4 linked regions of the Homo sapiens genome follow. The protein of the gene in region 3 interacts with the protein of the main gene of each other region in a pairwise test. Each region holds a gene or a part of one and is shown on either strand. Other genes may lie near its edges.

What was found.
Region 1: the proteins of GIGYF1 (region 3) and FAM124B interact in binary tests that used the Homo sapiens proteins (3 or more experiments, as listed by UniProt).
Region 2: the proteins of GIGYF1 (region 3) and SNRPA interact in binary tests that used the Homo sapiens proteins (3 or more experiments, as listed by UniProt).
Region 4: the proteins of GIGYF1 (region 3) and RBM22 interact in binary tests that used the Homo sapiens proteins (3 or more experiments, as listed by UniProt).

The regions. Positions count from the first base shown.
Region 1 is NC_000002.12:224,392,102-224,399,206, forward strand, and holds part of FAM124B (protein FAM124B), read right to left. Parts: intron 1-7,105.
Region 2 is NC_000019.10:40,754,114-40,761,218, reverse strand, and holds part of SNRPA (U1 small nuclear ribonucleoprotein A), read right to left. Parts: intron 3,888-7,105; coding exon 3,715-3,887; intron 1,789-3,714; coding exon 1,609-1,788; intron 1-1,608. UniProt on the Homo sapiens protein: Component of the spliceosomal U1 snRNP, which is essential for recognition of the pre-mRNA 5' splice-site and the subsequent assembly of the spliceosome. U1 snRNP is the first snRNP to interact with pre-mRNA.
Region 3 is NC_000007.14:100,684,230-100,691,334, forward strand, and holds part of GIGYF1 (GRB10-interacting GYF protein 1), read right to left. Parts: intron 5,327-7,105; 5' UTR 4,363-5,326; intron 4,287-4,362; 5' UTR 4,222-4,286; intron 4,079-4,221; 5' UTR 4,010-4,078; coding exon 3,975-4,009; intron 3,882-3,974; coding exon 3,752-3,881; intron 3,655-3,751; coding exon 3,559-3,654; intron 3,388-3,558; coding exon 3,276-3,387; intron 3,178-3,275; coding exon 3,069-3,177; intron 2,818-3,068; coding exon 2,777-2,817; intron 2,591-2,776; coding exon 2,420-2,590; intron 2,205-2,419; coding exon 1,951-2,204; intron 1,851-1,950; coding exon 1,745-1,850; intron 1,253-1,744; coding exon 1,115-1,252; intron 918-1,114; coding exon 820-917; intron 666-819; coding exon 494-665; intron 388-493; coding exon 221-387; intron 112-220; exon of another isoform or gene 109-111; coding exon 8-108; intron 1-7. UniProt on the Homo sapiens protein: May act cooperatively with GRB10 to regulate tyrosine kinase receptor signaling. May increase IGF1 receptor phosphorylation under IGF1 stimulation as well as phosphorylation of IRS1 and SHC1.
Region 4 is NC_000005.10:150,690,958-150,698,062, forward strand, and holds part of RBM22 (pre-mRNA-splicing factor RBM22), read right to left. Parts: intron 5,935-7,105; coding exon 5,834-5,934; intron 5,749-5,833; coding exon 5,576-5,748; intron 4,750-5,575; coding exon 4,549-4,749; intron 3,284-4,548; coding exon 3,119-3,283; intron 2,351-3,118; coding exon 2,262-2,350; intron 2,070-2,261; coding exon 1,938-2,069; intron 925-1,937; coding exon 794-924; 3' UTR 1-793. UniProt on the Homo sapiens protein: Required for pre-mRNA splicing as component of the activated spliceosome. Involved in the first step of pre-mRNA splicing.

The sequences.
Region 1 (7,105 bases), on a different chromosome or scaffold from region 3:
TATCTTTTGATTGTTTCCAAAAATTGAACTGAATTCTACCCTTAAGAGATGAGGATTTGGCGCTGGCACGGTGGCTCACATGCCTGTTATCACAGTACTTTGAGGCCAAGGCAGGAAGATTCCTTGAGACCAGGAGTTCAAGTTCAGACTGGGCAACATAGCAAGACTCCCATCTCTACAAAACATTAAAAACTTATCCAGGCATGGTAATGCACGCCTAGAGTTTCAGCTACTCAGGAGGCTGAAATGAGAAGATCACTAGAACCCAAGAGTTTAAAGCTGCAGTGAGCTATGATCATGCCACTAATGCTCCAACCTGGGTGACAGGATCAGACCCTCTCTCTAAAAAAGCAAAGAAAAAAGATGAGATAGGCCAGGCATGGTGGCTCATGCCTGTAATCCCAGCACTTTAGGATGCTGAGGCTGGCTGATCACTTAAGCTCAGGAGTTTGAGACCAGCCTGGGCAACATGGCAAAACCCGGTCTCTACAAAAAATACAAAAATTAGCCGGGCATGATGGTGCACATCTGTAGTCCCAGCTACTCCAGAGACTGAGGCAGGAGGATAGCTTGAGCCTGGGAGAGGGAGGTTGCAATGAGCCGAGATCACACTACTGCACTTCAGTCTGGGCAACAGACCAAGACTCTGTCTCAAAAAAAAAAAACAACAGATGAGATAAGAGATAAAGTTTTGTCACCAACGAGGCTATACACAGTATAGTTACAGAAGCTTCAAGATGCAGGAGACCTTAGAAATAACCTAGGCCAGGGCAGTCCAATACAGCAGTCACCAACCACATAAGGCCATTTAAATTGTTAAAATATAATAAAATTAATAATTCTGTTCATCAGTCTCACCAGCCATATTTCTAATGCTCAGTAGCCACATGTGGCGAATGGCCACCGTATCGAATAGCACAGATACAGAATATTTTCATCATCACAGAAAGTCCTAGAGGACAGTGCATTCGTCTAGAGAAATGGGTCTCAGTTGAGAAATGGGTCTACATTGAGAGCATATGTGTGAAACCAAATCTTTCAAAATCACATGACTTTCTCCCACATGGCTGTCTTGGAGAGTTATGTGGATTCTAGCTCAGGTGCTGATTGCAGGAGATCCAGAGGTGAGGCCCCAGGACTGCAAGAAGGATACACAGGCATGAGTTTCAGCTCATCCCTATGATTAAGTCAGGAAAAGCCTCCAGAATGGATGGCCGGCAACCAACATGTGTTGTTGAGATGGTACACCCCAGACTGTACTGATGTTGTACTCTTGTTCTGTTACTTATCTGTCCTGCCCAGGTTGCAAGAATAGGACACCACCCTATTCTAAAACCTCTCTAGCTTCCAGGGAGGTTTTATCTTGTAATTTATAAAGTTTTCCTACTGAACATCAAACAATGGTGGTGGGAGGCGAGGTGTGTGTGACCTTTCCCATTTAGTCAACTTGGGAAGCAGTCACCCTTATCAAGGAAAGAAGACCTGGAAGGTGGACCTCAGAGAGAAGGGAGAAAACCATCCTCCTTCACTGTGTGAGTTTGGCCTGGAGCACCTCCAGGAGAAGTGGGTAAAGAAGACTTGGAGGAGACCTGGGAGGGACCTCAAGGCCATAGCTTGCCTGGGAGCTCTGAGAATAGCGACATCTAGAAGTACTTGTAAGTTATTCTTCTGGCCTAGAATTCTTTGGGGGGTTTTTCCCCACCTCTTTGTCCTCAACTCTTCAGAAAGATCTTGTTGAAATTACAGCTTGGTCTCAGCAGTGTTTGGGGACGGTTCCATAAGCCCGGAGTGGTGGTAGCAGCAGTTACTGGTGGAGGACACAGGGCCTGCAGCAGGTGCTGATCTCTCCAGGGGCAATGGCAACACACAAGCAACTGGGGGCCCAGTGAGGAGACCAGGACAGAACCTGAAGGACCTGCTGTAGCACACCTGAGAAGCCACATCTTAGGGACTGAAAGCCACCAAGCGACATTGACTTCCATGACACCACAATCTCCTCGTCCTCCTGGCTTTGTGGTTGCTTCTTCTCAGCGTCTCTCACTGGTTCTTCTTCCCTCTCCTCCGGAAGTGCACGCATTTTCCAGGCACTCTCTTTACCTCTTCTCTCTCTACACTCTCTTCCTTGGTAATGTTGATCCTTTCCAGGGCTTCAGCCACCAACTCCACCTATGCCCCTAGCCCATGCCCCCTCCTGAGTTCCAGCCCTCAGAGACCACCTGACCATGGAATCTCTTCATTTGAAAGACCTGCAAGCACTTCAAGCCCAATGTGTCCAGACTCATCATCACCTTCCTCTTCTTCACCCTCCATGTCCAATTACTGCCAAATTCAGTCAAGTCTACCCATGCAATTTAACCTCCTATTTCCATTATGAGTTCCCTATTTCAAAACTGCACCGGCTTTGACTGGAAAACTGAAGTCCCCTCTGAAGTGGTCAGTCAAGCCCCCTTCCAACCTGTCCTATTTGATGCTAACAGGATTATGGTCCTAAATTATATATTATAGGTATGAGCATGTCTGCCCCTTCTCTAAACACCGTAATAAATGGATTTCTTCAAATCCCATTTTGTGTCCTCCTGCACCCATTTTCAGTGCACAAAAAATTCTCTAAACTCCTTTGAACTCTCCAGCCCTATACTTTGCTACAGCCCATTCAGTCAATCCCCCAAGTCACACTTCCTCCATGTTACTTGACATCCTCAGTCAATTTCACCTTCTCCTTCCCTACACACAAGGTGGGTGGCTGCAGCTCTACAGTGCATTTCCTGCAGGCTGCCTGGTACTGCAGGCGCTTGCAGGAGGGTCCAGCTCCTCATTAGACCACCAGGGCAGTGTGATACCACACAGAACACCCACCCAAAGGCTAACAAGATCATGGCTGTCACATCTCCCACAGGGCCATGAAATATAGACCTTGCTGAGCGTTTCAAGTGGCTTTGAGGGAGGTTTATCATTTAATTTATAAAGTTTGCCTACTGTACATCAAACAGAATGAGAAGATCACCAATGCTAACTCAGTGACCTGGAATTTAGAGTCTGCCAGAGCCTGACACCAAAGTCATGGACTCTACCCTTGGATTGCCCCTGCCAGGAGGAGGGCAGGAGATGAATGCATCAGCAGGTGAATCAGGGGAGAAGAGCCATAATGCAAAAAATTGAAAAAAAATCTATAAAAAGTACAAAAAATACAACTTTGGACACGGGTCTCAGCTGTGGAAAGCTGAAAGCCAGCAGTAGTTGACTAGAGATACTGCAGCATGTGGTTGATTTGACAAAATAGCTAATTTGACTGAGGGCACAGTTTAAGTTGCAGGAGGTTTAAAAAAAGAGGCGGACATCATCACCCATGCTACCTTCCCCCAGAACACACTGACACTGTCACTACCACCAGAGGCAAAAGCACAGGGAGAAAAGCAGAGGGACTGTTTGAACGAATAAAGGGAAGGTTGAACCCACTATCATTTTGCACCCACTAAGAATTGAGACAGCAGAATTAAAACTGCCAAAGGAAAAACAATGTCTGGCCCAGAGCAAGAACTCAACAAAGTTCTGAGGAATGAATAAACATGGACTTGCCTTCTCATGTACTCATACATTCATTTACTGAACATCTATTTGATATGCTCATATCGCTGTCATCAAAACCACCCATTCTAGACTCTGAGAGGCATCAGACTGTCTGCAATGGCAAGAGGTCATGTGGAAAACGCATTGCTCACTGGGCGCGCTGGCAGAGACAGCTGACAGCCTCTCACATGCACAGATCACAATTGCACCGCAGTTACATGGTCTCCAGGAGCTTCTACTTTACCAAGCACCACCATGTACATTCTCTCATTTGACCCTCATAACACAAATAATCCATGTCAGTTCCATTCATAGGACTCATCAGTGACTGCTCATTTCACCAAGGATAGAATAGAAGCTACTTAGCCAGGGTTCATTTGTAGAAGGATGTTTTTGCCTACCATGTGCCAGACACTGACCTTAGGTTCTAGGTTCACAGGAGTGAGCCCAAAAAGTCCCCCCGCTCTTGGTACTTACATTCCAGTGGCTGACCACATTCCCACTGATCTAGCCTCAGGCCACCTGCCCATCCTCTTCCCCTGACTCCCCCTCCCTTCACTCCAGCCACATGAAACCTCAGGAAGTTTGCTGAGCATGGCCTGCTAAGCAGCACCACACCAACATCGTCACCCACGGTCACCTGTTTGAGACACCCTTGCTCCCTTCTCCAACTGGCTAATTCCTCCTGGGCCACCCAGCTCACGCAGATCTGGGCATTGCTACTCAGGAAAGCTTTCTCACTGCCCCTCCTCGGCCTAGCTCCCCTCACACTCAGGTCTTCTGCACACACGCCTCCATCCTGGCCATGTGGAGGGATGGTCTGCAGAGAGGTTAGTTTGTGGTTATGGTTCTTCCTTTAATAGGTATAATTTTCTTACTTTTGCTGAACATCAGCCATTTGGGACCACTCTGTATTTGTCTCCTCCGCCCTGATCTTCTCTGGAGACCCACAACCTTCCCTAAAAGTCCCACAGAACACCACACAGCATCTAGGGGTAGAAGCCAGAGCCTTTGCCTCGGGGCTAAACTGATCCATATAATCTCACTTTCCTGCACGTAATAATTGATTTAGAGAAGAGAATCTGATCCTAGTTGGTCTAACTGAAGTCCAGACATTTTGTTGCGCCATGGTGGGGCAAGGCACTTGGAATCCACATGAAGGATGTAACCCTCAGAGCTGCTAGCAGCCAGCTGGCGACCCTGGCGGATGCCTGGCTGAGGATAGGGCCAAGACAGTGATAACAGAGCTGGGATCTGGATCCTGAGCACACTGTGTAAGGCCTGGACTACTCACTTACAGAAGCCAGACTCGCTACCCAGCCCCTCTCCCCAGGACCCAAGGAAGTTTAGGCTGGATTTTCTTTTCTTTTCTTCTCTTCTCTCCTCTTTTCTTCTTTTCGAAACAGAGTGATATGGTTTGGCTGTGTCCTCACCCAAATTTCATATTGAATTATAACTGCCACAATTCCCATGTGTCGTGGGAGGAACCCAGTGGGAGGTGATTGAATTATGGGAGTGGGTCTTTCCTGTGCTGTTCTCGTGATAGAGAATGAGTCTCATGAGATCTGATGGTTTTAAAGATGAGAGTTCTCTGCACAAGCCCTCTCTTTGCCACCTACTGCTATCCATGTAAGATGTGACTTGCTCCTCTTTGCCTTCCGCCATGATTTTGAGGCCTCCCCAGCCACATGGAACTATGAGTTCATTAAACCTCTTCTTTTGTAAATTGCCCAGTCTCGGGTATGTCTTTATCAGCAGCGTGAAAACAAACTAATAGAGTAAATTGGTATCAGTAGAGTGGGGCATTGCTGAACAGATACCTGAAAATGTGGAAGCGACTTTGGAACTGGGTAACAGGCAGAGGTTGGAACAGTCTGGAGGGCTCAGAAGACAGGAAAATGTGGGAAAGTTTGGAACTTCCTAGAGATTTGTTGAATGACTTTGACAAAAATGCTGATAGTGATATGAACAATAAGGTCTAGGCTGAGGTGGTCTTAGATGGAGATGAGGAGCTTATTGGGAACTGGAACAAAGGTGACTCTCATTATGTTTTAGCAAAGAAACTGGCGGCATTTTGCCCCTGCCCTAGAGATTTGTGGAACTTTGAACTTGAGGGAGATGATTTAGGGTATCTGGCAGAAGAAATTTTTAAGCAGCAAAGCATTCAAGAGGTGACTGGGGTGCTATTTAAGGCATGAGTGAACAGTGAATTAATTCACTCATAGTAAATGAGTCTCCCAATATCTGATGGTTTTAAAAACAAGAGTTTTCTGCACAAGCTCTCTTTGTCTGCCGCCATCCATGTAAGATGCGACTGCTCCTCCTTGCCTTCTGCATGATTGTGAGGCTTCCCAAGCCACGTGGAACTGTGAGTCCAATTAAACCTCTTTCTTTTGTAAATTTCCCAGTCTCCAGCCTGTCTTTATCAGCAGTGTGAAACAGACTAATACACAGAGTCTTGCTCTGTCATCTAGGCTGGAGTTCACTGGCACAATCTCGGCTCACTGCATCCTCTGCCTCCCTGGTTCAAGCGATTCTCCTGCTTCAGCCTCCCGAGTAGCTGGGACTACGGGTGCACACCATCATGCCCAGCTAGTTTTTGTATTTTCAGTAGACAGGGGGATTTACCATGTTGGCCAGGCTGGTCTCAAGCTCCTGGCCTCAAGTGATCCACCTGCCTCAGCCTCCCAAAGTGCTAGTATTACAGGCCTGAGCCACCACGCCCAAGAATTTTCTATCCTGAAAAATTCACTCCATTCAAAGAATCAAAAGCTATCTAGGAGCTACAATGTGTTGTCTTTGGATTATGGCTGAGCCTTTACACACTTTCCTCAGGCACTTTTATTATATGACACCAGAAGCAGAATTTTCCAGAAGGCGATCTCTCACTCTGTTTGCAAAAGCTTAGACTCATTGACTTAACAAGAGGAGATCAAAGCGTGTTTTGGAGTGAGGAAGCAGAAGTCTCTGAGGTTTGGAGGTCAGGACAAAGGTGATGTCCAAGGGGGCTATCAAGAGTGAGAGGCAGCTGGGCGTGGTAGCTCATGCCTATAATCCCAGCACTTTGGGAGGCTGAGGCAGGTGGTCACTTGAGGCCAGATGTTTGAGACCAGCCTGGGCAACATAGTGAAACCCCATCTCCACTAAAAATACAAAAATTAGCTGGGCATGTTGGCAGGCACCTGTAGTCTCAGCCACTTGGGAAAGCTGAGGCACAAGAATTGCTTGAACCCGGGAGGCAGAGGTTGCAGTGAGCTGAGATCACACCATTGCACTCCAGCCTGAGCAACAGAGAGAGACTCTGTCTCAAAAACAAAAGAGTGAGGGGCTGATGCCCCATTCACACCTGAGAAGTGGCCAGGCTCCTGGGACAATCCAGAGAGGAAGAGGGCTCTTTTCATACAATTCATGGAGTTTCTCTTTATCCAAAAAACTCTTCTACACTCCCCAAATGTGACTCAACTTTCCAAAGTAACTAAGTTGTTTAAACTGTGGTTCCATAGCAAAAATGTCAGTCAGCCTTAAAGACAGGAATGAT
Region 2 (7,105 bases), on a different chromosome or scaffold from region 3:
ACTCTTCATCCTGTCCCCTTGGTCTGTCTTCCTACCCTTCTGCCAACTGTATATCATCCTGGTTGGTTGCTGCAGGTTTTTTTTTTTTTTTTGCACATGGACGTGGTGGCATGTGCCTGTGATCCAGCTACTTGGGAGGCTGAGGCAGAAGATCACTTGAACTTGAGAGGCAGAGGTTGCAGTGAGCCGAGATTGCACGACTGCATTCCAGCCTGGGGAGACAGATTGACTGAGACTCCCTCCCGAAAAAAAACAAAAGAAAACAAAACAAAACAAAAAAGAGACAAGGTCTCACTCTGTTACCCAGGCTGGAGTGCAGTGACAAAACCACTGTTCACTGCAGCCTTGACCTCCAGTTCTCAAGCGATCCTCCCAGCTCAGCCTCCTGAGCAGCTGGGACTACAGGAATGAGTCACCACGCCCAGTTTTCTATTTTATTTTTTGTAGAGATGAGGTCTTGCTATTTTATAGAGGCTGGTCTTGAACTCCTGACCTAAAGCAATCCTCCTATCTTGGCCTCCCAAAGTGCTGGGATTACAGGCATGAGCCATTGGGCCTGGCCTGGTTGCTGGAGCTTCCCCTGGTCATGCAGGTCCTGGTGCTTTATTCTCCTCGCCTGGCTTGGCCTTGTCTTTCCACACATTTAGAAAGAGCCAATCAGTGTCCAGTGTTTACCGAAATTCCTGGTGGGATTTTGATTGCAATCACGTTGAATCTTCAATTAATTTGGATGGAACTGACCTCTTGACAATACTGAGTCTTCCTATCCATTGCTGAGTCTCTGATTTCTCCCAGCTACATTCTGTGATTTCAGTGTAGTCGTTCTGCAAACCTTTTGTTGGATTTACCCCTCAGTGCTACTTTTCAATGTGAAGTCTACTGGTCTGTTACTGGCATATAAAAATAAAACTGGGGGCCAGCCATGGTGGCTCATGCATGTAATCCTAGCACTTTGGGAGGCTGAGACAGTGAGTTTGAGACTAGCCTGGGTGATATGGCTAAGCCCCGTCTCTACAAAAAATGCAAAAGTTAGCTGGGTGGAGTGGCACGGACTGACAGTTCCAGCTGCTAGGGAGGCTGAGGCGTATCACTTGAGCCTGGGAGGCGGAGGTTGTAGTGAGCTGTGATGGCGCCACTGCACTCCAACCTGGGTGACAGTGAGACCCTGTCTCAAAACATAATATGAATAAATAAATAAAACTAATTTTTTTCCATATTGCCTTTATATCCAGCGATCTTTCTAAATTTAAGTTCACTTATTAATCCTAACAGTTGCTTAGTAGACACTTGGATTTTCTACATGCACAATGAGTTACAAGACACAGGCGACAAAATCAAGGCCACGGAGAGAGCGAAACCAAGTCATAGCCATGAAGAAAGACCTTGAGAAACAGTCACAAGGAGGGAACAAGAGTTTCGAAAGGAGATAGCATCATCTAGGTGCTCAATACCCCCCAAAAGAGAGAGAGAAACACATCTCTATAAAGAAATGGAAAGGAGGGGTCTGAAGCCCCAAGGGGAGAACTCTCCCCACCCTGTCCCAAAGCCAGTCCATGTGGCTGAGGAAGGTCTGGCAGTGGGAGGGTTGGTCTCCGGGACCTGGCTTACCGGGACAGGCCCCTGGACAGCCCCCACCACGGGGGTGGCTCCCCCGCCTTGCACAGCCTTCTTGGTGGCCGGGGTCTCCTGGCTCTTGGGCTTCCTCTTCTCCCGCTTGCGGTCCCGCTCCACGAAGGTGCCTTTCATCTTGGCAATGATATCTGAGTCGGTCTTGGCATACTGGATACGCTACCAAACAGAGAGCAGAACGGGTTAAGAGCGTGGATTCAGAGCCCAATTGCCAAGATTCAAAATTGGACCTTTATCAGGGGCCAGGTGCTGCGGCTCATGCCTGTAATCCCAGCCCTTTGGGAGGCTAAAGCGAGCAGATCACTTGAGGCCAGGAGGTGGAGACCAGCTTGGCCAACATGGCAAAACCCCATTTCTTTGTTTCTTTTCTTTTTTTTTTTTTTTTGAGACATTGTCTTGCTCTGTCACCCAGGCTAGAGTGCAGTGATGAGATCTCAGCTGACTGCAACCTCTGCCTCCCGGGTTCAAGCAATTCTGCCTCAGCCTCCCTACTAGCTGGGATTACAGGCGCCCACCACCACGCCTGGCTAATTTTTGTGCTTTTAGTAGAGACAGGGTTTCACCATGTTGGCCAGGCTGGTCTCGAACTCCTGACCTCAGGTGATCCACCCACCTCGGCCTCCGAAAGTGCTGGGATTACAGGCATGAGCCACTGCGCCTGGCCAGGAAACCCCATTTCTACCAAAAATACAAAAATTAGCTGGGCATGGTGGTGCGCACCTGTAGTCCCAGCTACTCAAGAGGCTGAGGCAGAAGAATCGCTTGAACCCAGGAGGCGAAGGTTGCAGTCAGCTGAGATGGCACCACTGCACTCCAGCCCAGGCAACAGAGCAAAAAACAAAAAACAAAAAACAAACAAACAAAAAAAAATTCAGACCTTATCAGGAGCTTACTGAGAAACACAGAAATATCTTGGCCTTAACTTCCTTGTCTGAAAAATGGGGATTATGATACTTCCCACTTCAAAGGACTGTTGTGAGGACTAAATGAGTTAAAGTGCTTGGAACAGTACCTGACACACAGTAAGCAAGTGTTCAGTAGAAAGGCTGTTGGTATTTTTAAGGGAAGCTGGAACAGCAATAAACATCAGGCCAAAGGACCGAGGAGACAATGCTAGGAGAGGAGTGCAGTGCAGGGGGATTTCCTGTCACACAAGAATACTTCAGTCTTCCAGGTTCAATCTCACTCACTTAGCTGTTTAAGGAGAACCTGCCAGATGCCAGGCGCCATTCAAGGCTCTGGGAATAAAGCAATGAACAAAATAGACAAAAACCCCTCTTTCATGGTGCTTATTCAGTAGGGGAAGGTATGTTAAAGATTCTTAGTGTGGCACAGTAGCTCACGCCTGTAATCCTAGCACTTTGGGAGGCTGAGGCAGGCAGATCACTTGAGCTCAGGAGTTTGAGACCAGCCTGGGCAACATGGCGAAACCCCGTCTCTACTAAAAATAAAAAAATCAGCCAGGTATGGTGGCACGTGCCTGTAATCCCAGCTACTCAGGAGGCTGAGGCAGGAGAATCACTTGAACCCGGGAGGTGGAGGTTGCAGTGAGCCAAGATTGCACCACTGCACTCCAGCCTGGGCAACAGAGGAAGATTCTGTCTCAAAATAATTTATTTATTTATTTATTTATTTATTTATTTTTTCTGAGACAGAGTCTCACTCTGTTGCCTAGGCTGGAGTGCAGTGGCAGGATCTCGGCTCACTGCAATCTCTGCCTCCCGGGTTCAAGCAATTCTCCTTCCTCAGCCACAGGAGTAGCTGGGACTACAGGTGCATGCTGCCACACCGAGCTAATTTTTGTATTTTAGTAGAGACAGGGTTTCACGGTGTTGCCCAGGCTGGCTGCAAACTCCTGAGCTCAGGTAATCCACCTGCCTCGGCCTCCCAAAGTGCCAGGATTACAGACGTGAGCCACCGCCCTCGGCCAAAGAAAAGATTTTTAAATGAGGCAAGGTGCAGTGGGAGCCTGGTCCAGCCTCACCTTGGCAAATGAACCGTAATATCCCCTCCTCTAATCCAGGCCCGCCCAGTCTCCTATAACATTTTACACACCCACACAGCCTCCGTACCCGCAATGCTCACCATAGGTTTGTCATAGAAAGGGAAACCCTGCATGGAGCGCAGGGCGTTGGTGGCGCTGCTGACCTCCTTGAAGATGACAAAGGCCTGGCCCCTCATCTTCAGGCTCCGTGATACCAGGATATCCAGGATCTGGCCAAACTGGGAGAAGATGGCGTACAGGGACTTTTTTAGCTCTGCAGTGGGGGAAAAAAAGACCTTTGAGCTCCCCTTTTTAGAAGAAGCGCAGCCCAAATAGAAGACCATCAGCCAATTGATGGGGTACCCAGAATGCCTCGGGTCCATAATCTCTCAAGACCTAACAATCACAGAAGCAGCCAGGAACCACTCAAGTGGCCAAGTACACTCTTCTACTCTTCTGTAAGATGTGCTTACAGAGAGCTGCTATATAATGAACATGTGCACATACATGCAAAGTGCTCAGGACAGCATCCGGCACGTAGTAAACACTCGATAAATGAGTGATTCTTTTCACTGCCACCAGCACCCTGACATGGGCCTGCATGACGTGGCCCTGGCAGATTTCCCCCACCTCATCCCTGCCCACATTCCACCGCCCTCCTGAGTTCCCAACCACACTGGCCCCCAGGTCTGACACACCAATTTTGCCCCAGGGCCTTTGAACTGGCTGCTCTCTTTACCTGGAACATCCCTCCCCTGAGGTTTACATGGTGGCCTCCTTCTAGTCACCCAGTCTCAGAGGAAATGTTGCCACCTCTGACCACGACGTCTAAATTTCTTCCCATGTCATTCTTACTCTACTTCCTTTTCTTTCATGACTATTTCCCACCTCCTGTCATGGTACGTTAACTTGTCTATCTTGCCTGAGGAGCTATAAGCCTGTCCCATTTGTTTACTGCAGTATGCCAAGCCTAGCACAGACTCCACCACAATTTTTTTTTTTTTTTTTTGGTGACAAGGTCTCACTTTGTCACCCAGGCTGGAGTGCAGTGGCATGATCATGGCTCACCGTAGCCTCAACCTCCCGGACTCAAGCGGTCCTCCCACTTCAGCCTATGGAGTAGCTGGGACCACAGGTGTATGCCACCATGCCCAGCTAATTTCTGGATTTTGTGCAGAGACAGGGTCTTGCTATGTTGCCCAGGCTGGTCTTGAACTCCTGAGCTTCAGCAATTAGCCCACCTTGGCCTCCGAAAGTGCTGGGATTACAGGAGTGTGCCACCACACCTGGCTGCAAACATTTGACTAGATACCATCAAGTGCCTTTTTTTTTTTTTAAAGACAGAATCTCCTTCTACTGCTCAGGGTGGAGTTCAGTGGCATGATGGTAGCTTACTACAGGCCTGACCTCCCAGGCTCAAGCAATCTTCCCACCACAGCCTCCCAAGGAGCTGGGACCATAGGCACGCAGCACGACGCACGGCTAATTTTTTATTTTTTGTAGACACAGTCTCCTATGTTGGCCAGGTTGGTCTTGAACTCCTGGGCTCCAGTGATCCTCCTGCCTTGGCTTCCCCAAAGTGCTGGGATTACAGGCATGAGTCATCGCACCCCCATCAAATGCTTTATGGAGGTAACTTCACTTCCTCACAACAAACCCATTAGGTGGCAACTATGACTGTCCCAATTTTACTGGAAACAGGTTCTCAGAGGATTCCTCACTGGCCCAGGGCATCAATCTGGAGGGCATAAGGAAGCGTATGGCAGAGCCCAGTCCACGTATTCCATCTGAACCCGGTACCACCACATCTCACCAGCAAAGGGCATCACTTGACAGCAAGTGAGATTCAAGCTCAACAAGGATGGACTCCCTCTCACCACCCAGGTCTGCAAAGGGCACCAATGTCTTATGCAAAGAAGATGGCTGAGATGGCCAAGCATGGTGGCTCACACCTGTAATCCCAGCACTCTGGGAGGCCGAGGTGGGCAGATCCTTTGCACTCAAGAGTTCAAGACCAGTCTGGGCAATAGGGTGAAACCCTGTCTCTACAAAAGATACAAAAATTAGCCAGGCATAGTGGTGCATGCCTTGTGGTCATAGCTACTTGGGAGGCTGAAGTGGGAGGATCACTCTAGCCTGGGAGGCAGAGGTTGCAGTGAGCCATGACCTCACCACTGGACTCCAACCTTCATAAAAACTGGCCAGGCATGGTGGCTCATGCCTATAATTCCAGCACTTTGGGAGGCTGAGGCAGATCACGTGAGGTCAGGAGTTCAAGACCAGCCTGGCCAAGACGGTGAAACCCCGTCTTGACTAAAAATGCCAAAAAAAAAAAAAAAAAAAAAAAAGAAAAGAAAAAAAATTAGCTAGGCGTGGTGGAGGGCGCTTGTAATCCCAGCTACTGGGGAGGCTGAGGCATGAGAATAGCTTGAACCAGAGAGGCAAAAGTTACAGTGAGCAGAGATTGCGCCACTGCACTCCAGCCTGGGTGACAAATCGAAACTCCATCTCAAAAAAAAAAGCTAAGCTGAAGCAGAAGCCACTTGTAAAATAGATACCAGGCTAGGAAAGAAGCAAGAAAATGTGTAGGCTGGGTGGGGGCAGGGACAGCAGTCAAGGTTGTTTTTAAGCAATTAGTCAAAAATTCTCCTGGTGGTGACATTTCTGGTTTTCCTCTCCGTACTCCATCCCCATGAATCTTGCTCAGACTTCACTCATTCCACGGGACTCTGGGCCTCTCTCTACTCTCCAGCCTCCCCTCGCCCATTCGCATTTACCCTCCACAGCTGGGAGGATATTCCACCAGGGAGGCAGCCAGGACAGGGAAGCAGTCTGGCTCCCCAACACCCTCAGGGCAAAGTCCAACACCTCACAGCCATGAGCCACCAGTGCACAGCTCACTGGAAGTTTCCCCATGATTTACAAGCCTCAAAACTACTTGTAATACTCAGAATACGCCAGGCTCTTTTGACCCTAAACATCTGAACAAGCTGGACCAAGTTAAGAATGCTCTTCTCCCTCAGTGTAACATAAATACTGCTTACTGTACCTGGCAGGCTCTCCAAAATGTCTCCTTTTCCTGGAAGCTGAATGGATCTCTCTGTCTTTCTAAGTTCCCAATCCCAGCCCTCAACACTCTGCCTAAGCTTCCTGCCTGATGGCCCTGACTACTCTGGGCTGTCACTGTCCTAAAGAACCAGGGTTCTGGCCGGGTGCGGTGGTTCACACCTGTAATCCCAGCACTTTGGGAGGCCGAGGCGGGTGGATCACAGTTCAGGAGTTCGAGACCAGCATAGCCAAGATGGTGAAACCCCGTCTCTACTAAAAATACAAAAATTAGCCAAGCGTGGTAGCAGGTGCTTGGAATCCCAGCTACTCAGGAGGCTGAGGCAGAGAATCACTTGAATTCGGGAGGCGGAGGTTGCAGTGAGCTGAGATCGCACCACTGCATTCCAGCCTGGGCAACAGAGCGACACTCCGTCTCATCTCAAA
Region 3 (7,105 bases):
CCCATACCTGCTGACCAGCTGGAGAAACTGCTGGTGCTGCAGCTGCTGGTACAAGGCCGCCGCGGCCAGCTCCTGTTGCTTCTTCAGCCGCTCCTGGTCCATGTTTCCCTGCTCAGGTGAGAGCTCGGCCAGTGCCCCCAGCAGGGAGGAGGGGACTCTGCTGGACTCCTGCCGGCACCCCTCACACCCTGTCCCTCCATGCAGGGGAGAAGCGGCTCACCAGCAGTGGGGGAGGTGAGGGCCCTGGGGCAAAGGGCACGCGGCCCCACATCTTGATCACCTCGCCCAGCGGCTGGAAGCCCTCATCGCAGCCCCGCTTCACCAGCAGTGACATGGAAAAGTAGCCGGCCTGGAACCACTCTGCCATCTCCTGTGTCGTGAAGGGGCCTGGACAGGGAGCGAGGGAGCGGGAGAACCACTGGGGTCACAGGGTATGCCAGAGACACCCTGAACCAGAACGGCCTTGAGCAGCCCTCCCATCCCACACAGGTACCTTGGATCTCGCCCTGTGGGTCCTTGTAGAACCACTTCCGGGCAGCCCCATGGCTGAGCGGGAGGGCAGTGGCGGCTGCAGAGTGGCGCAGGCCCTGGGTCTGCATGGCAGCCGTGAACTGCTCCTCCTCCAAGGAGCTGTCCTGCAGGGAGGCCACCAGCTTCTCCGCCTCCTGGATGCCCAGAAAAAGAAGAAAGGCTCAGCTGCCAATCTCAGCAACATCAGGATGGGGATGGGGATGGAGCTTGAGCTGGGGCCGGGGCTGGGGCCAAGCAGGTCAGGTCAGAAGTGGGAAGGGTCCCTCCCGCTTTCTCAGGCCCCCACACCTGCTGCAGGTGCTTCAAGCCTTCATCATCCTCCAGATCTCCGGGTGGGCCAGCAGAGGAGCCCACCCCGGGACTCAGCTGGATCCCCCGAATATCATCTGGAAGGCATGAGATAGGAGGTGGAAAGAAGGGCGGGGAGGAGACAAGATAGCTTTCGCCTACTCTCACTCCAGAACACCACGCTCTTGCCATGGCTCCTCAATGTGAATGCCCTGTGTGCCCACCCCCACGAGTGGGGAGCACTTTCTCCCACAGCCCCAGCGCACCCGGGAGGTAGGCCATCCTCCCTTCCTACCTTCGGCCGCTGGGGGCTCTTTCTCTGCAGTTTCGTCCCCATCCCCGTTTGTCCCCCAGAGTGGGCCCAGGGTGGGCAGTGGGGATGGGGAGCTGGACTTCTCCTCCTGAGGAGGCAGTGGGGTCAGCTCTTTCCCACCTAGAAGAGGGAGATGGCCAGAGTTCAGAACCAAGGGCTGGGCCTGCCACGCGAGTTAGCACAAGCCCTTGAGTGTGGCTGGAACCGCGGGTCACACTCCCTTAGGCCGAGTCCACCACTTCACTTGGGTCAACTCAACTAATGGCAGAGGGAATGCGGTGCCCTGACCCTCGCCTCCACGCTGCCAGACGCGGCAGGAACATATCACAACATCGCACAACACCACACAACACCGCAGACGTCACTCCAGGTTCTACAGCTTCTTCAAGGGACTTTCAAAGGTCATTTTGATTACGCCTGATTTCTATCTGGTACACTGCCTTGAAGACATGGCTCTGCTACCCCCTGGTTCCTCCCCACCTCTCAGCACTCTTCTTCCAGATCTAAGTAGCCTGATTCTACAGGTAGGTGGGCAGCCAATGCCCAGCCCGGCAAAGAACACCAGTGCCTGCCCGGCCCAGCCCCAGGCCCGCTGGGCACCCCGCGGCTCACCTGCCTCAGGCCCTTCCTCCTCTAGCCCTTCGGAAGGTTCCTCCTCCTCCTCCAACCCTTGGAAGTCCAGCTCCTGCTCCTCAGGAATGGGCTCCTTGGGGCCCTTCTGCATGGGGCCGGGGTGGGGAGCAGAGAACAGCTGGGGTGGGTGGGGAGGAAGAGGACCCCGGAAGGGCAGGTTCCCACCCTCGCCTCCTCACAGATACCTTGAGAGGCAAGAAGGCCCCAGAGGCATCAAAGGTGCCCATTTCTTCATCCTCATCGTCCAGGCACCACTCTGGGAGCCCATCCTTGTCCTCCTCAAAGCCTTCAGGCGCTCGGCACCGCCGCAGGTGAGAGCTGCCTCCCCCTCCCCGCCCCTCCTCTTCACCACACCCTCCTCGATCCCCTCGCAAATCAAATTCAAACTTGCGCCGCCGTTCCCCATGTTCCCGCCAGCCAGCAGAGCGGGGACCACCATCTGCACAGGAAAAGTCAGGGAGAAGAAGAGTGGGTACCCAAGCGAAGCCAGCGGCCCCCTCTGCTGCAGCTCACGGAGCACCTCCAGGGCTGCTGTCCCGGCCACTCCCACACCAGCCAGCCTCTGCTCCCTCCCCGTGGCTACAGGAGCCCACCCTCTCATTACAGTTCCTGCTCCCCACTGCCCCCGCCAATGCTACCAGGCCCCAATCTCACCAGGGCTGGCGGAGCGCCAGCGGTCGCCGTCTCGCCGGGGCCCTGCTCCGAGCCTCCAGCTGCCCTCCTCCTCCTCCTCCTGTTCCTCCCGTAGGGAGCGCCAGTTCTCGCTGTCTGAGCGGGCGTGCTCCTTCCTTGGGCCAGCCCCTCCCTCCTCAAAGCCACATCGTGCTGGGAGACGGGAAGACAGGGGCAGTTATTAGAAAGGCAGCGTGGTGCCTGGACCCTCAAGAAACGTTGGGGGGGCCAGCTCCAGGCCCTCCTGCCCCCAACACCTCCGAAATAAGCACCCCCAGACTGGGCCACCCATCTTGGTCCTCCCTGCCGCCCCGGCCGCCGCCCTCAGCAGCCTCGTACCTCCATCCCGCCTTGCTGACTTCTCAAACCGCCTCTCGCCTCTGCAGCAGGGGAAACGTGTGGGTCAGAAACAGTACAGCCTCCCCTGCCACCCTGTGCAACCGCCCCATGCCTTGTCCACTGTGCCCTGAGGCAGTGGAGGGAGGAAGGGGACAAACGAAACCAGGGGTCAGGAGCACCGGGATCTCGGACAGGGCTTATCTGGTGGGCCTCTGTTACCCTCTAGCGACAGGGCCCAGGCCTCCCCTCCCTGGCCTGCCCGGCTCTGCGCCATGCCCCCTCCCCGCCCCACCTGTCATCCCAGCTCTGGCTGCGCTGGATTTCCCGGGGGCTTCGTCCAAAGGCCCCATCGCCTTCTTCGATGCTTCTTTGGTAAAAGCAGCTGTCACCACGGCCGCGGCCTAGAGAAGAGGCCAGACGCACAATGAAACCTGCTGCACGTTCTCGAAGTCAGGGGCCCAGATCTGCCCGTCCCCAGGACACGCCATCACCCCTCTACCTCGGCTCCGCGTGCTGCCCCTGCCTCGGGAGGTGCCAGCCAGGGGGGGGCCAGCCCCTTTCCCCATCAGCCTCAGCACAGCCACGCTGTTCACTGACAGGGAGAAGTTTCTCTGAGGAGGGAGCCAGGGGCGGGAGTGAGGACCCAGGCACCCAACCACCTCCACCCCCACCCCACAGCACCCTCCCCGCCTGTCTCCTCAGCGCTGGCCCCTCTCCTCCTAACCCAACCCATGGCCTCCCCTCCCAGGCTCCCGCAGCCTCAGCTCCTGGCCCGGTCCCACCTGTTCCTCCTCAGTCAGCGGCTCCAGAGCCAGGGGCTGCAGTGGCTCGTCCTGCAGCACCGCGGCGAACTCCTTGTCCTGCAGCTCTTCCGGGACCTGGCAGTGGGTTGGGACAGCCAAGACACCACATGCTGCCAGATCCCCTCCACAGGCAGAGGCCACCACCGCCAACCCCCCTCGCCCACGCACCCACCTTGTTCTCCTTGACGTAGAGAGCCAGCATTTCCTCTCGCCCATAACGGTAGTCAGCCAGCTTGTATTTGGGCATGGCAGGGGACGGGGGTGGGGAGGCCACGCTGCCGCCCCCGGACAGGGCCCTGAGCCTGGACACAACACAGAGAGAAGAAGACAGAGGTCAGGGCAGCCTGACTGTGCTTTCTCGAATCTCCACGGCAGCCGAGGCACAAGTGACTCACCACTCAGGCCCAAAGTTGAGTGTCTCTGCTGCCATCGTGGGGCTGGGCGTGTTTGAGAGGCCGGGGGTGGGGAGGAGGGGACCTGGCGTTCACTGTCCAAACACCTGTGGGGGAACAGGGGCCATGAAGAACAGCACACGAAGGAGAACTTTAAAGCGCAGGGAGGACACCATGGGGGACATCCTAGTGGGCACAACAATGGGCCCCGGACTAGCTGGTGGGTCACCTGGGGTCTAAAAGGACTCACCTGAGCCAGCCACGTGGCCACTCACACCATGAGTTACCCAGAGATGAGTCCAGACGGTGAAAGACCTGGGGGAGGCGAGGAGATGGGAAGCTCGAGTCCTTTCGGCCTCAGCAGGGCAACCACCCTTGGCCCGGGGCTCACCTGGCAGCCTGGCCCGGGAAGAAGGAGGGCAGGGGCTGGTGCTGGAGTGAACGAGGGTACCCAAGCCACTGGGAATTGGTCTGACCTCAGTAGAGCCTGGGAGGGACCTTCACATCTGGGAAAGACCCTTAAGGAGAGCAGGGGGGAGGAGGGAGGGTTCAGGACATGGCTCTGCCGGCAGCCCTGCCCTGCCCCGCATGACAGGAGAGGTCCATTCGCCGGATGGTGTCTCTGGGCATCAGCACCCTCGCCACCCTCTCTGGGAGGCTGAGACAGGAGGTGTAGTGAAGAACTCGGGGAGGGAGGCAGCCGAGGCCAGGATGGACGTTCAGGGCAAAGATAAAACAAAAACAAGCAAGCAAACAAAAACCCACTAGAGCCACAAATAGCTTACAGAGAAAAGGTCAGTTACGGAGAAAAGGATTAGAAATAAATCTAGGAGCAAAATTCTTTCCCTCATGAAAAAAATCAGTTGGCTGCTCAGAAGCTCAAATCCAGGGGCTTGGTCTGGGGAGAAACCCAGTGAAAAGGAGCAGGAGGTGACTCTAGGGCCACAGACGGGTACACGACAAGGACTCCAGGCAGGCAAGCCTGAGCCAAGGCACCTCGGGCTGGTTTCCCCCACAGGAATCACACCCAGACCACCGCCCCCAATCAATAATGGAGGCTTAAACAACCAAGCCACCAAGGGAACGAGGATCTCAGGATACCAGCTGGGAAGCAGCCTCTGGCACCATCAGGTGGAAATAAGGTCAGGGCAATGGAGGCTGATGGGGGCGCGGCGGCAGCCTGTTCCTCTAAGGGAGGATGGAGGGGACTTTCAGGAGGAGGCGCATCCCTGGGGCCCCAGGCAGAGGACTCAAGCGGGTGGGCGGGGTCCAGGTGCTGCGGTGTTGTCACTGGCTGGGAGGGAGGCTGGCCCGGCTTGGTGCTGCAGCTCCCATCAACTCCAGGACGCCACAGTCTGGGAAAGAAGAGGAAGCGGGTTCAACCAGGGTGCTGAGGAGGAAAGGCCATCAGCCCCAGCTGAGCCAGCAGCCCATGACAAGCCGAGGCCTGCTCAGAGTCCAGGCACTCCAGGGGGAAACACCGGGCTCAGAGGCAACCCAAGGCCAGGCTGGCCTCCCCTGGGACCTCTCCTTCCTCTGCCTCGGCTGGATGCTCCAGTGGTGGTGTGTTCCATGACATGAAAAGCCACCAGCCTGTCACTGACTGCAGGTGGCCACCTAGAGCAATCTGGGGACTGGATGAGCCTTGAGGACATCACGCTAAGAGAAACACACCAGCCAAAAAAGGAGAGCTACCCCTTACTTCTCTTTCATGAGGTCTCTAGAGCAGTCACTCATTGAGGGAGGAAGGTAGAAGGGCAGCCACCAGGGGCTGAGGGGACAGGGAGCTGTTGCTGAAGGGTCCAGAGCCTCAACTGAGGAGGGGATCCTGGGGCCGCTGGTGGTCATGGCCGCACACCAATGTGAGTGTACTTAGTAACACAGAATGGCACAATTAGAGACAGTTAAAGTCTCCAAATTTTGTTGTATATTTTACCACAATAATCATTTTTTTAAAAAAGCTTTAGGGAACAAAAGGTATCTGGAGATAACCACCGCATACCTAAGTTTTCCCCACTCCAAGAAAAACACCCCACATTCCTTCAAATCAGCCTCAGGAGAGGCCATTTTGGGCCTCCTCCAGTTCATTCCTTCTAGAAGGCCAGAAGCTCATCCTGGAGGCATGAGGGTGGGAGAGAGTAGAACAGAAAAGGGACCACCTGGCCAGCACAATGGCTTATGCCTATAATCCCAGCACTGTGGGAGGCTTGAAGAGAGGAGTCCGAGACCAGCCTGAGTAACAGAACAAGACCACGACTCTACAGAAACAATTCTAAACATTTTTTAAAAAAGAAAAAGTGGCCAGGCGTGGTGGTTCATGCCTGTAATCCCAGCACTTTGGGAGGCCAAGGCAGCCAGATCACCTGAGGTCAGGAGTTTGAGACCAGCCTGGCCAACGTGGCAAAACCCTGTCTCTACTAAAAATACAAAAATTAGCCAGTCCTGGTGGTAGGTGCCTCTAATCCCAGCTACTCGGGAGGCTGAGGCAGGAGAATCGCTTGAACCCAGGAGGCGGAGGTTGCAGTGAGCTGAGATTGCGCCCCTGCACTCCAGCCTGGGCAACAGAGCAAGACTCTGTCTCAAAAAAAAAAAAAAAAAAAAATTTAAAGCGATGGCCTCACACTGCCCCCTGCCAGGCGCAGCAAGGGCAGCTCTCCTAGGTGCCTCCGGCTCAAGTCACCCATCCTGGCTGTGTCTTGGCTGCAAGGGGCACACAAAGGGGGAATGGTTCATGCAGACTGAGGACAGCGACACCAAGACAGGGGAGAGAGCAGGCCCAGAGCAGGAAAAAGCCCATGCCACCCGCCTTCTTGGGAAGAAACCAGGAGAGTGAGGTTAACTCTCTAGGCACCCCCACAGCAGGGTCTGGTGCCGGAAGCTGATGGTGCCTGGCCCCTTCCTTGGACTAAAGGAACTAGTGGCACACCTGCAGGCCACCATGGGGCTCCCACCCTCCAACAGGTTCTGGACTGGGGGCACCTCTGCTCCTCAGGGGGCTCTTGGCCAAGTCTAGAGACATTCTGGGTTGTCACCACTGGGCAGGGGGTGCACAGGGCAGCCCCACAGCCAAGAGCTATGTGACTCCAGATACCAAGTGCGCCAGTGCTGAGACACCCTCCTCTGCGCCACGAGCA
Region 4 (7,105 bases), on a different chromosome or scaffold from region 3:
AGCAGGAGGTCACGTCTTTCATTCAGACGCTCCAATGCTTTTCATTTCAGTTTGTTAAAGAACGTGTTTTACAGGAAGTTCTTTACAGTAATTTCATGCCAGACACCAGGTTTCTTCGATGGTACACAGCTCCATGAAATTTGTGTTTCCATCCAGTTGACAGGAATAAAAAGGAATTTTTATTTTTGTCTTTTTTTGGGCCGTAGAGACGTAAAATGGTCAGATTCCTTTAGGAATAAATGAGGAAAAGGAGAGGAAAGAGAAGATCTGGGCTGTGCTGGTGCTGGTTTCTACTCATCTTTCGGAGGGTGTGACTTCAAGAGTTAAATCACACTTAGGCCACTACAATGATTAGTACTAGTTATCTTTTTTTAAGATGATAAAAAGGAAAGTATCCAATGGACATAAAAATGGTCAAAGGTTTTTTTACTGCAGGTCAATTTTTCCCCCGACCAAAAAATATACAAAATGAACATATAATTGGGAGGGTAACTCTGCTGGACATTCCAATTCACTCATCTGCGTGTCCCCCACACGGGTAAGGGGAACAGGCGTTCGGTTTTATTAGTCATGTTACAGCAGTAACCAGATGTGTTAATGGCAGCTTATTTACGGTCCATCGATCCTTTGAACAAGTATAGGAAAGCATGGCTGTCAGTCTCTGACTGCTCACATCTGAGCACATTCAGCTACCATGGAAACTACAAGGGAAGGAAAAATATATTTATTCCAAGATTTACTGGGAGTTTTAAGTGCCCTTTCTTCCACAGAGCCCCAGAGTGGTGACAAGGTGCTAGGGGCTGCTGTGTTTTCCAGCATGAGCTCCCATCCTCTGAGGGTCCTGAGAAGGATAGTGGATTGGTCCTGGAGCCCGCATGAAAGGAGGGGGTGGTCCCATTGGGTGGAACATGTGTGGCCCAAAACCTGCAGATACGAGAGAACAAATGTGTTAGGCTGGTAGTTTCCTTGATAACCTTTCAAACCTCTCAATCTTGCTAAGGTTAAAACCACCTACACATAAATCAAGGTTGACACGGGGCTTAAGCAAATGTCAGTTCACAAACTTACTTCCACTTGTTATTTCCTTGGTTTTAGAAACCTTTCCCCCACAGTCCAAAAAACTCCACAGCACTCAAGGTATCGCCTAGTATGTCATCTGAGTCTCTGCTATGTATCCAACATGCCAAATCCTACCAGACAGGATTCAGTCAGGATTTGGGAGATAAGAAAGAAATCAGGCTGATGGCAAAGACTGTGTCATCATTAACCTCAATGCTTGACACCAGAATGGAGGGTGCTCAGAAACCAGATTCTCTTCAGAGTATGGGCTCTCTGCCACAGGAGAACTGGCTACCTGTGATTTCCTTCCACTGTTAACACTGTCTACAGCAGTGCTATACGAAGTGCCAGTCCTCCACCTATTTCTGGCCACTCAAGACAAAGAGCTTGAGTCAAAATGTAAATTATACGACCAGGCACAGTTTAGTTCATCTGACAGTTTTTTTGGTAACAAGACTTTCTCAATGAAGGAAGGGGTTCACTGATTACATTTTGGCACAAGCTCCTGATCTTGTGGCAGACAGGTGATAAACACTTTGTAAAATGACACCCGCTCACAGCCCACACTGGGCAATAGTGCTCTAGGGCATCCATTAGCATTTAGTTTAGAAAAGGGAACAAATTGGTGATAGATCTTTGTAATCTAATAATCTTACTCTGCTGACACATATACGCGGATCTTTAGAAAACTGGCCCCTTTCTTCTCCTCGGCAGAGCAGGAGAAAGAAAAATTTCAGAAATCCCAACAGATCAACTTTACTGGTAGACTTCTACAGAGCAAACTCACAGGATTTGGATGTGTTGAACATGATGGTGAGGTTTATGAGACAGAACTTTCACAAGGATTTCTCTGGGCTAAGAAGGAAGATGGAAGTTACCTGGGGGTGGGGGTGGAGCAATGCCAGGGGGCGGTGGCAGAGCAATGTTCACCACAGCTGGAGGACCACTTGGGGGCAAGTTGAAGTAGTTGGCAGAGGCTTCTTCTTCTGCTGCAGGAGGAGGAGGAAGAGCTGGAGGAGAGAAAATAGTCAACACATAGAGGGGAGAACAATTGTGCAACGCTGTTTCTACCACCTTTACATTCTCAGAGGTCCTACTGGGAGAGTAGAGCGGCAACATGAACCAGACCTGGGTCCCATCTTCCAAAATAGGAACATCAGGGCAGAAAGAGCTTCTGAAGTCAGCAGGGAGTCTGCACTCACCTCCTGGCAATCCTGGAACAGGTTCTAGTTTGATCCCAGAGTCTGTAGTTCCATCTTTCTCTTTTTCTTTTCCTCTGGCTGCCTGGGATCTGGGAAACACACATGCATACAGTCGGCACTCTGGCCCACCTTATCTCACACCTCTGCTTCTTACATTCCCCAGTCCAATGGAGTTCCTTCGCTCTACCTCCTCCTCAGCACACACTCTTTTCCCATAAATGCCACTGTGCACAGTGAACAAGAGCAAAGGTTTTGACACCAGAAAAGACCTGGGTTCAAAAGCTGCTAGAACTATCATAAGGACCAGAAAAGGCAACACATACGTGTTTAGCACAGTGCTTACCACATAGGGAGCGCTCCACAAAGGCAGATGCTGCTATTAGCCATCACTTCCCTGGTTCCAAGTTGGAGACATGTTCCCCCTTTGAACTGGGTCTTTCACCTGTGTCTCTCTTATGCAATCATCACTTTTAAACTTAAAATAGCGATTCTTCCCTGTTTTATCTTCTCCACTGGACAATCAGCCTCTAAGGGCAGAATCTAGGTCTAATTCATTTATAAACCCTAAAATTCACCTTTCATGGCCTGGCATTATACTTGGCCTATAATAGCTAGTCACAAAAACATGAACCTTCAAAGGAGTAGATTATACACCAACCCCCTGAATACATTTCCAAAGCAGGGTTCTCCCAACATCCACAGGAATCAAGTATCACATAGAGAGTGATCTTTGAAAGATCTCTTTAAAGATCCTGTTCATTTAAGCCTGTTAACCAAAAGCCTACTAGTCTCCAGAAAATGAAATAGTTTCTTAAAAATCTAAGCAAAATGTCACTTAAAAATAGTTTAATTCTCACCTTCCCCATTTCACATTCAGTCTGCGGCCATTTACAATCAACTTATTAAAGGACTTCTCAGCAGCCACTTCTGCAGCCTGCCGTGTGGCAAACTGGATGAAAGCACACTGCTGTCTCTGCACAACAGTGATCGTCCGGATCTCTCCGAACTGGTAGAAATGATTTCTGAAGGGAAACAGGCAGAGAAAAATGAAAGTGGGAGTTAAAAAAGATGTACCCAGGAGACTGAAAATGGATTAACTTTCACTGACACACCACTAGGCAGGTGGGCCCCAAGGTTATCTGCCTAACTACCCGCAGGTCTCCACCCCATATCTTGTCCTACTGTGGGTGCTGCTGATTGAGAGAAGGAAAGAAAAATAATGAGTAAATAAAGGTTCTCAAACATCTCAGGGTTTTTTCCCATGGAGGAAAGGGGGTTCTAATAGGTTCTTTAAAGACCCTAAACCCTAGATAAGAGGTTGGCAAACCATAGCTCTCAAGGCCCATGAGCCAAGAAAGTTTAAAACAAGAATACGTGACAGAGACTGCATGTGGCCCACAATGCCTAAAATATTCACCATCCAGCCTCTTACAGCGAAAGTCTGCCAACCCCTGGGGGTTGTCTAGCTCACTTAGATAGGGTTTAATGGAGACAGGCTACCAAGGGCAGGTTATAAACTTACAGGAGTTTCTTCTCCACTTTATCTCTTTGGAAGAGGTAATTTCCATTACTATCTGCCCAGAAGTCTCATCTAGCCAAGCATAATACAAGCCAAAAATAACACAAATTTATCAAATGCCAGTCTCTTTAAAAACCAACAATTTAAACCACAAGAGTTTTATCATCGCAAAGCTCTCCCTCCTCTACATAATTCATCATACTTGGATGCGTGCCATCCTTTAAAACTTGGCTGTTAGGTCAAATAGAATCCTATGTCATTATTACCATATGCCAGGATGGATAAGCACTCTTTGAGCTTTGGTTCTGAGACAGGGTCTCACTCTGTTGCTTAGGCTGGAGTGCAGTGGTGCAATCACAGCTCACTGCAGCCTTGATCTCCCAAGCTCAAGCAATCCTCCTGCCTCAGCCTCCCAAACAGCTGGGACTACAGGCACATGCCACCACACCCGGCTAATTTTTTTGATTTCTTAGTAGAGATGTGGTCTCACTATGTTGCTCAGGCTGGTCTCAAACTCCTCGGTTCAAGAGATCCTCCCAAAGTGTTGAGATTACAGGCATGAGGCACTGTGCCCAGCCACATAAGCACATTATTACTGTGGCACCATAAAGGACAATTTTACAAAAATTCCAGTCAGCATGATACTAACAATAGAGAGACTACAGAAAAATGTATTTTGTACAGAATGATCATTCTTGCAGTTTTTGCAAATAAATTATTCCAGGGCAGTTAAAGGCAAAAATAACTCTCTAACTTATACCCACAAACCTTAAATCTGTCTCAGTAATGGTATCACCTAGACCACCAACATATAGTGTGGTGATAGTTTTATCCTCTGGTGGGTCCAGCCGAGGCATTGTTGAAGCCCGCTTTAGAAGCTTGTCAGCTACAGGATCATTGATTCCGTAATAACGGTCTTTAATATTCTGATCAGCAAGGGGGTCATCTGGATCTGTAGGCTTCTCATGTCTATGATTCAAGAAAAAAACAAGGCATAAAGGTGAAACGAAGGTGAAAAAATGATTATCTTCCAAGAGTAGCTACATATTAAAGTCCTAGATACATATTCTGAAGTGCCTTTTGAACTAGAAACTATGGTTTCTACCAAAATATAATTACCAAAATAGACCTAATACCAAGAGATTTACTGTATCACGGAAGGAATTACTAGCCTCCTAAAAGCCATTAGGCCATCTAGGATGCCAAACTTTCCTTATAAATAAATACTCTTGACATGATCCACCCCCTCCCGCCCCCCAGAAAGGGACACATGATTACCCCTCTCTAGGTCAATGATTCTTAACACATTTGGGGTGCTGTATTCCACTGAGAATCTGATTAAAGCTATGAACCTCGCCCCAGAGAAAGCACATACATTATTTTTTAGGGGGTGGGGTTAACCAATCCCAAATTAAGAACTCCTAATCCAGATGCTTGGCAGTCTTAACCAAAACATACACACCCTTTAGAAGTCTGACCTTACTTTGACTTCAACTATACATTGAGAGTCAACTCATTTAAACCATGGCAGTGAAGATTTACTTCTCAGGCAGAAATGTTTAGGGTCAGCATCTATATTGTATGGCATAGCAATTTAGTTTCCAAGGCTCAATTGTAAGTAAAAACTACAATTTATTCATGCTCTTCTAAATTTCATAGTTCTAAGACATGAGGTATACCACATTAGTTGTATGACCTTTAGATTTTAAAGCAGAAACAGTTTAAGTTAGGACCTCCCACTTCTTAGATGAGAAATCATCTGAAAGCAAATACTGAAAATGAGGCTCGCTCTTGCCTGTATGGACATTCCTCTCCTCTCTTACACTCTCCTTTCACCCAGAAGGAGCAAATGTGGGGTCGATTCCTTTTGTAGTAGGGTGTGGTCCGGGCCAGTTTGAGCAGCATGTCACTGGTAGATGTGGCTTTCCCCAGCATGCCAACTGGCCGTGTTCCATCAGAGTTAGAAATCTAAGTGGGGATGACAAATTCAAAAGATAAATTATACAGACTGTGTCAATTCATTAGGATTTTTATCCAAAAAGTGGCAGCATACCTCTCTCTCCATATTCTGTGTATAGTACTCTTTGTTGACATCTGACTTTGGCATGTCATCTTTAAAAGACAATCCTGCGTCACGAACCTGGATGGGCAGGCCTGGTACAAAAAAAGAGGAAAAAGACCTCAGATGTATTTTAAAACATATCCATACTAACCATGCACACAGAATACATCATCTTTCCCTTCTCCTCTTTCCTATTTAGTACCAGAGACTTTACTATGTTTTTATTCAAACTCTTTAGCACCATCAGGTTACTTCTGCTACACAGCATGCTAAGAAATTGTCCAAATTCCTGAACTGTCAGGAAATTTGATGAAATTAATGCTTTAGAAAAAATCTTTTAGGCTGGGTGTGGTGGCTCATGCCTGTAATCCTAGCACTTTGCAAGGCTGGAGCTGACAGATAGCTTGAGTCCAGGAGTTCGAGACCAGCCTGGTCAACGTGGTGAAACCCCATTTCTACAAAAAATACAAAAATTAGCTGGGTGTGGTGGTATGCACCTGTAGTCCTAGCTACCCAGGAGGCTGAGGTGGATCACCTGAGCTTGGAAAGGTTAAGGCTGCAGTGAGCCATGACCATGCCACTGCACTCCAGCCTGGGCAACAGAGTGACACCCTGTCTCAAAAACAAAAAACAAAAAAATTATAAAAGAAAATTTTTAGATGAACAAACTGTGCCCATGGTCATATTCAACCTGTAAATTAGCTCCTAGTTTTTATTACAACATGATTTATTTAAAGTAAATGTAAAAGTGGTTTCTTTCTAGGTTAGTCTTACAGATCCTCTGGATAGTCACAGTCATCTAAGGGTCACTGTACTCCAGGACCAGACGCCTCCTTAACAAACATATAAATAATATTACATAAAATGTGGCCAGGACTCTGACTAGAAGAGTAACTCTAATGAACTTAACATACATAAACTCATATATTTTTCCCTTTCCTTTAATAGTAAAAACTCTTGTTGAAAAATTATCTTTCTGAAAAACAGTCACCTATGGTTAAAAAAAAAATTACTCCCAAAAGCAGTTACTCTGAAACAGTAGCAATATATCAGTTCTAACAACACAATTGAAATAAAAGTCTAAAGCACAATTAGGCTGGCTATAGTGGCTCTGGGAGGCCAAGGTGGGAGGACTGCTTGAGGCCAGAAGCTCAAAACCAGCCTGGGCAAAATAGTGACACACACACACACGTGCACTGGGTGTGGTGGTATACCAGGAGGCAGAGGCAAGAGGATCCCTTGAGCCCAGGAGTTCGAAGTTGC